Homo sapiens: one gene and its partner. The protein of the gene in region 1 purifies or fractionates together with the protein of each later gene. This does not show direct contact. Each region holds a gene or a part of one and is shown in the gene's direction. Other genes may lie near its edges. The genes, in order: SLC22A7 and DNAJB12.

Region 1 (2,707 bases):
CAGAGATGCCCTTGAGGACTGTCCCAAGAGCAACCCCTTGAAAGGCCCGGGGTTGGGGGGGTCTTTCAGCTAGCTACTGAGAGGTGGGAAGAGGAAAATTCTAGGCATCTGGTCATGTTTAGAAAGAGGTTTGCCTCCTCGAACAACATGGCAGGGCCTGTACAAACTACTGACCTTCTTCCTTCCACATCACCCTTTCCTTATCTCCCAGTCTGGTGACTTGTCTTCTCCTTTAGTGATACCTAATTGGTACTCTGTCAGAATGGGGGCCCTGTCCTCTGGTGGGTGCTGGCTTGAGGTCTCCTGGCCTGAAGGTGGGTGGGAAGACCAACTGAAAGAAGTCCTAGTTTTCTTAGCTATATGGGGAGAAGGGAGTATCAGGGCCTGCCAGCCCTGGAGGGAAGCCCTGTGGGGCATGACTCCAGGTAGGTGTGAACACCATCTGCCTCCCTCATCCTCTTTCTCTGAACAGACAGACAGGGATGGGGCTGACTGCACTGGTGGGCCGGCTGGGGGGCTCTTTGGCCCCACTGGCGGCCTTGCTGGATGGAGTGTGGCTGTCACTGCCCAAGCTTACTTATGGGGGGATCGCCCTGCTGGCTGCCGGCACCGCCCTCCTGCTGCCAGAGACGAGGCAGGCACAGCTGCCAGAGACCATCCAGGACGTGGAGAGAAAGAGGTGTGTGCACAGGACTGTGTCTGTGTACGTGTGATAACATGCATATGGATGCAGGTGCTCAGATACCTGACACCTTAGGATTCAGACAGGAAACTATATCTGCACATGTGTACTTGGTGCATGTATGTGTGCGTGCACAGGTGAGTGTTTCAGGGTGCATGATTGGGGGCATGTAAACTGCAAGCATAAATGTGTACATGAGTGTATGAACACAAATACATAAGGTTGTTCAGGAAGATGTGTATGTGTGCACACTCAAGTATGCCTACACATCAGGGGTGTGTACAAGCATGTGTGTGAGTCACTTGTACAGGCGTTTGTATACCAGGAACTGGGGTGAGCCCTGGGACAGCCCTGATGGGGCAGGCTGGGGTGGTAGGCTCGGGGATTAAACCCCACCATTGCTCACAACTCCTTCCTCCCTAGTGCCCCAACCAGTCTTCAGGAGGAAGAGATGCCCATGAAGCAGGTCCAGAACTAAGTGGGAGTGGAGGCAGGCCCTCCACAGAAGCTCTGCAGCAGGGGCTGGGAGAGCAGAAGGGCAGGCCCTGCAACTCAGGCTGGGAGTATCGAACCCTCTGCCTAGGGCCGGAGTTGCTGCCAGTACCCGCTCCCTCTGCTCATCCATCCTTGATTATTTGGCTTCTAGGAACAGTTGACTTCCCAGAATGCAGTGGGCTGCTGGGCACCCCTCTCACGGTTGGGGAGGATTCTGTAAATAAAGGTGCCCCTTGGGTTGGGGCAGTGGTGACGAGCTGTGGGAAGAGCCCTGGATAGGAAGCCACTGAGTCTGCCCTGGGCTCTGATAAAACCTTCACCATTAACTTGCTGTGTGACCTTGGGCATGTGGCTTTCCCTCTCTGGGCCTCAGTCTGTTCATCTCCCAAATGGATAATGAAGCCTCTTGGGAGGCCCTACCATAGGATCTGTTGCCATGCTCAAATGAGTTACTGAATAAGGTGCTTCTGCTTCTTCTAGAGATGGTGCTAAAGAAAGGACTAGCATATGAGACTTCTGGTACCAATGGGGCTGGTGGGCATGCTGTCCACTGTGTGGTGCTAGGACTGCCAATGCCAGGCCCAAGGGACAAAAAGAACAGAGCTTTTTGTTCTCATGGCTGGCCCTGCTACCTCCGAGGCACCCTGCAGGGCAATGCATGTCATCCCAACCCCCACACTCCCCATCCTCCAACCCACTGGTCTCATGCCCAAAGAAGAGTTGAAGGCATGGGAGCCAACATTTTATTGAAGAAGCCACAGAGGCTGAAATTCAATAAACACAAGTTTTATGAGTACCTTGAAGCTCCAGAATGTGCTGGGGAAAGGGGTTGTGATGGCCAGGAGGAGGATACCCTTCAAAACGGGCTGTTCCCTAACCAGATAGAAATGGGAAAGGGAAAAAATTGGCAGAGAAAGTCTAGACTCTCTGGCCTACCATGGAGCCTAGGCCCAGGCCCCCAAGATCCCACCTTCCCCAACCCCCATGGGACTGGAGATTTTTGTAGCTTCCATTGGACCATGAGGGGCATGATGGGAGGCCTGAGTTAGGGTGACCTTTTTTGTGAGCGTCTCATTTGAATTTTATCTTCACTGGGTCATAGATGTAGCAGCCCACATCGCCAATGTTCACACCTGAGAGAGAGAGCCCTATCACCAAAGGCCCTGGGTCTGTGGTGCAGGGTTCAGGCCTAGAGGGAACTTGGTGGGGGGGCCAGGGTATGCTTAACCACAGGGGAAGTTGTCCACACATACCCACAGACCATGTACATGCCATACTTCAGGCATGTACATGCCATCCCAGTGTCTGGGATGGGGCTGCCCACCTTTGGGGCCAAACAGGTAGCCGTAGCAGGGGACGTGGCAGTAGGGGACTCCATCATGCTGAGACACAGAGAGAAAGAGAGCTGTCTCAGCCTGGTTCTCTTCCCATCTCCAGCCTCCTCCCAACATAACCACTCATTCCTGCCCTGCTCACCTCAGCATGACTCCCAGCAGTCAGGGTCTTGTGGCAACGCTGGCACCTCAGACA
Region 2 (3,817 bases), on another chromosome or scaffold:
TGCTTGAGCAGGAGCTCTGAATGGTTTCCTTGCCTTGCACAGCCCTGATTGAGTCCCTCAACCAGAAACCACAGACTGCCGGTGACCAACCCCCACCCACAGACACAACCCATGCCACCCACAGGAAAGCAGGTGGGACCGATGCCCCCTCGGCCAACGGTGAAGCTGGAGGAGAGAGCACCAAAGGCTACACTGCAGAACAGGTTGCAGCTGTGAAAAGGTAGATGGGTGGGCAGGGGCTGGAGCCTGGGGAGACTGGGGAAATCTAGAGGCTTCCTGGAGCATGTCCTCCACCTCCCATCTGCCTGTGGGCAGCACAGGGCCCTGGGAGGGTCTTGGAGGATGGAGAAGGTCCAAGGGTCCAGGCTCACCAGGACCTCTCCTTATTTCCCTCAAGGCCCAGGAATACAGTGTGGGAACTGGGGCTCCACCACCCCTCCCGCCACGACCCACAGCAGAGGCTGGAAAAGCTGACACTGCCGGCTTCCTCTGCCGCTGGCCAGGCAGGCCCCAGGCCTCTTTACACAGCTCTGTTTGTCAATAGAGATGGAGCTTTGTCTCCCCCTCCAGATTCTACCCCAACCCACATCCCAGCACCCAACAAAGACCCTTTTAGATCAGAGCCTGTGTGGGGTAGAATGGAGACCAGAGGCAGAGTTATTGCCCCACGGCTGTGAGCAGGCCCCACGCAGAGTAGCTCGCTACCAGGCCAGAGACCACCCAGCCAAGGCTCCTCAGGCTTAGACGTTCCCAGCTCCCATTTCTCCCCAGGTCTCCCAGCAGCTGGCCTTGGGAATCCCCCAGGGTCATGCCACAGCTCCTGGCAAGCTTCAGGACCAAGGCCGCCTGTGTGAGACTGAGCATGACTGCTGTTTGCCATAAAAGTGTAGGCGAGATCTGTACTTCACTGAGTCGGCAAGGTCCATTGTAGGCAATAGAAACTGATGTATGAGGGATTGGGAAGGCCTAGAAACGGCCAAGAACCAGGAGGTCTCCAGGGACGCGGAGAGGAAGAATTGGTGAAAGAGAACCAGGGTCTCTTTAGGCCCTGTGCTTGCGGTGAACAGTCACCTGCCACTTCTGGCCTTCATGTTACCCACTCAAGACTCAGATTGGGCTGAGCATGGTGGCTCATGCCTGTCATCCTAGCACTTTGGGGGGCTGAGACAGGAGGATCCCTTGAGCCCAGGAGTTTGAGACCAGCCTGGGCAATTAGAAGACCCTGTCTCTATCTTTAAATATTTAACATTTTAAAAACTTTTAAAAATTAAAAAAAAAAAAAGACTCAGATTGCCAGGAGAGTCGGTTGGCTGAGCTTGGGACACCACCCTGGGTGATGGACACCGACAGTCCTCCTGAGCTCTTCCCATGGGGAAGATAGATACTGGCCTGGCGAACCCCACAGATGCCCTCCTAAATCCAAGAATCCAGACGGTGTTCTTCTGTTTCCCGTGGTCCTGCCCAGCTCTGCATCACATTTGGTGCCCACTTGGCTCCCTTGTCCCTGGTGTCACACAGCTGACCCAAGGAGCTGTCAGCCTTGCCCTGTTGGTCCCCCGCAGCCTGCCCAGAGCTGTGCGCCCCACACGGCCTGTTCATCGCCCCCCTCACACAGACCCATGTAGAGCACCCCGTACCATGGTCTCCTCCTTCCCCAGGGTCAAGCAATGTAAAGATTACTATGAGATCCTGGGGGTGAGCAGAGGGGCCTCGGATGAGGACCTGAAGAAGGCCTACCGCAGACTGGCCCTCAAATTCCACCCAGACAAGAACCACGCACCTGGTGCCACTGAAGCCTTCAAAGGTAAGCCAGCCCTGCTTTCCTAGCATTTTGGTGTGTTCATCTCCTGTCCATGGCAGGGAGTAAGGGACCAAGACAGCTTTCCCAGGAAGCAGGGAGCAGGAGGAAGTGGCCTTGGGCCCAAGTTGCCCAGGCTTGGGAGCTGCTTCTTGGGAAAAAGGTTCTAGTAGCCACCTCTAGCTATGTAGAGTTGGTCAGAGCTCAGATAGCACCATTCCTGCCCCTGCTTCCTCTGCATTTCCTGGGGTTACGTAGTAGAGCTGAGGCAGGAAAGTTCTAGTAGCTTCTCCAAGGATTCTCAGTGATTGAGTGACTCACCGTGTGCGCTTCCCTGTCTTAGAGTCTCATAGCTGCCCACTGGGGTAACTGTTTCCCTGCTGAGGGGCAGGGTAGCCCCAGGTCGGGGGCCTCAGGCCTGGTGGCCACCTCAATACCAGCAGCCACAGCCAGCTCCCCCGCCATACCTATACACCTGGGGCTTGCAGTGGGGACATGGCAGTCTCTGGCTTCAGGGCCCACTGGCTCAGGATGGGTGCTTCATTTCTGGCTGAAATCGTAAGCTGCCCTTTATTCATTACATTTTCATTTAACCTGTCAGGCGCTCATGTGTACTGACTCTGTGCACTGCAATTTCTCATTGCCCCAAACATTACTGCCTTCTCTCATTCCCACCATGTCTTCCTTCTCTCATTCCCACTTCATCCACCTCCTTGGGAAATAGCATGGTGACTAGCCCCCACTGGCCTGGGCGGGGTGTGTGCTGTGCTGCACCCACAACCATAGCCAGCTGGAGAGCCTGTGGCAGAGGAGACTCCGAGACCTGGTGTGCAGTGTCCCGGGGCCCTGGAGGAGGAGAGTGGGAGTGGGGGGAAGCAAGGTAGCCCTGTTGAATGTTTCTCCAGCCCCAGCCTCTGCCTGCAGCCTGCTCCGACTGTACCGAGAGGCCAGCTCTGGCCTTGAGGCCTATTCAGAATTGGCGGAGGAGACGATTCCGCGCTCCTTATTCCCGGGGGTTTCAGGATGGGAATCAGATGTGGCTTGGACCCACTCCTCGGAGTCAGTGGCAGCTTGAGGAGAGGGAGTGAGAGACTGAGGAGGTCAGAGCTGGGGTCCTTCAGGGCACAGCCGTCCCGGCTAGGGGGCCCTGGTGGGAGGCTCCAGGCCCAGATAGGAAATAACGGTTGGGGCCTGGACCCCAGAGAGTGGGGGACTCACCCCAGCTGCATCACCAGAAGTGGAGGAGTCTCCATAGAGCCCCGAGATTTGGCCCTTCCCCACAGCTCCTGCTGCTTTCCAGTTCACAATAAGGATATTGTGTGTCTGTCTGGCCTGCATGTCAGACTATGACTTCAGGTTTACAGAACCTCCAGAAAGGGATGCCCATCCTATTGGGCACGTCAAGAGAGAATGAGGAAAGAGGTTTTTGGTGGTTTTCATAAAGTCGGAGAGAGAACTTGAAGCAAGAGACACCTGCTTTTGTTTGACTCCCAGCTCTGTAACATATTAAAGCTGTGTAAGCTTAGGCAGTCACTTCTCTGAGCCTCAGTTTTCTCATTGGTGAAATGGAGATAGGGTTGCTCTTAGAGGTAAATGAGTTGACCTGGTGTGGTGGCTTATGTCTATAATCCCAGCACTTTGGGAGGCCAAGGTGGGAGGATCCCTTGAGCCCAGGAGTTTGAGACCAGCCTGGGCAACTTGGCAAGACCTCATCTCTACAAAAAATACAAAAAATTAGCTGAGTGTGGTGGTTCACGCCTGTAGTCCCAGCTACTCAGGAGGCTGAGGTGGGAGGATCGCTTGAGCAAAGGAAGTTGAGACTGCAGTGAGCCACGGTTGCTCCACTGCACTCAGCTTGGGTGACAGAGTGAGGCCCTGCCTCAAAAAATAAAATAAACAAACAAAAAGAAGTAAATGAGGCCACACTCCTAGGAGGCCTGGCACATTGACAAAGCTTGACCATTGTCTTGAGGAGAACAAGGAGCCTGTGTTACCCTCCACCCAGCCAGGCTGCCCAGA

What was found.
Region 2: the proteins of SLC22A7 (region 1) and DNAJB12 purify together in Homo sapiens (affinity purification with mass spectrometry; one large-scale study listed by BioGRID and IntAct). This does not show direct contact.

The regions. Positions count from the first base shown.
Region 1 is NC_000006.12:43,303,566-43,306,272, forward strand, and holds the end of SLC22A7 (solute carrier family 22 member 7), read left to right. Parts: exon of another isoform or gene 1-466; intron 467-472; coding exon 473-679; intron 680-1,105; coding exon 1,106-1,160; 3' UTR 1,161-1,657; coding exon of another isoform or gene 1,658-1,688; 3' UTR 1,689-1,973; downstream 1,974-2,707. Other genes in the region: CRIP3 (cysteine-rich protein 3), read right to left, coding at 2,249-2,310, 2,502-2,559, 2,654-2,707.
Region 2 is NC_000010.11:72,341,353-72,345,169, reverse strand, and holds part of DNAJB12 (dnaJ homolog subfamily B member 12), read left to right. Parts: intron 1-42; coding exon 43-220; intron 221-1,658; coding exon 1,659-1,804; intron 1,805-3,817. UniProt on the Homo sapiens protein: Acts as a co-chaperone with HSPA8/Hsc70; required to promote protein folding and trafficking, prevent aggregation of client proteins, and promote unfolded proteins to endoplasmic reticulum-associated degradation (ERAD) pathway.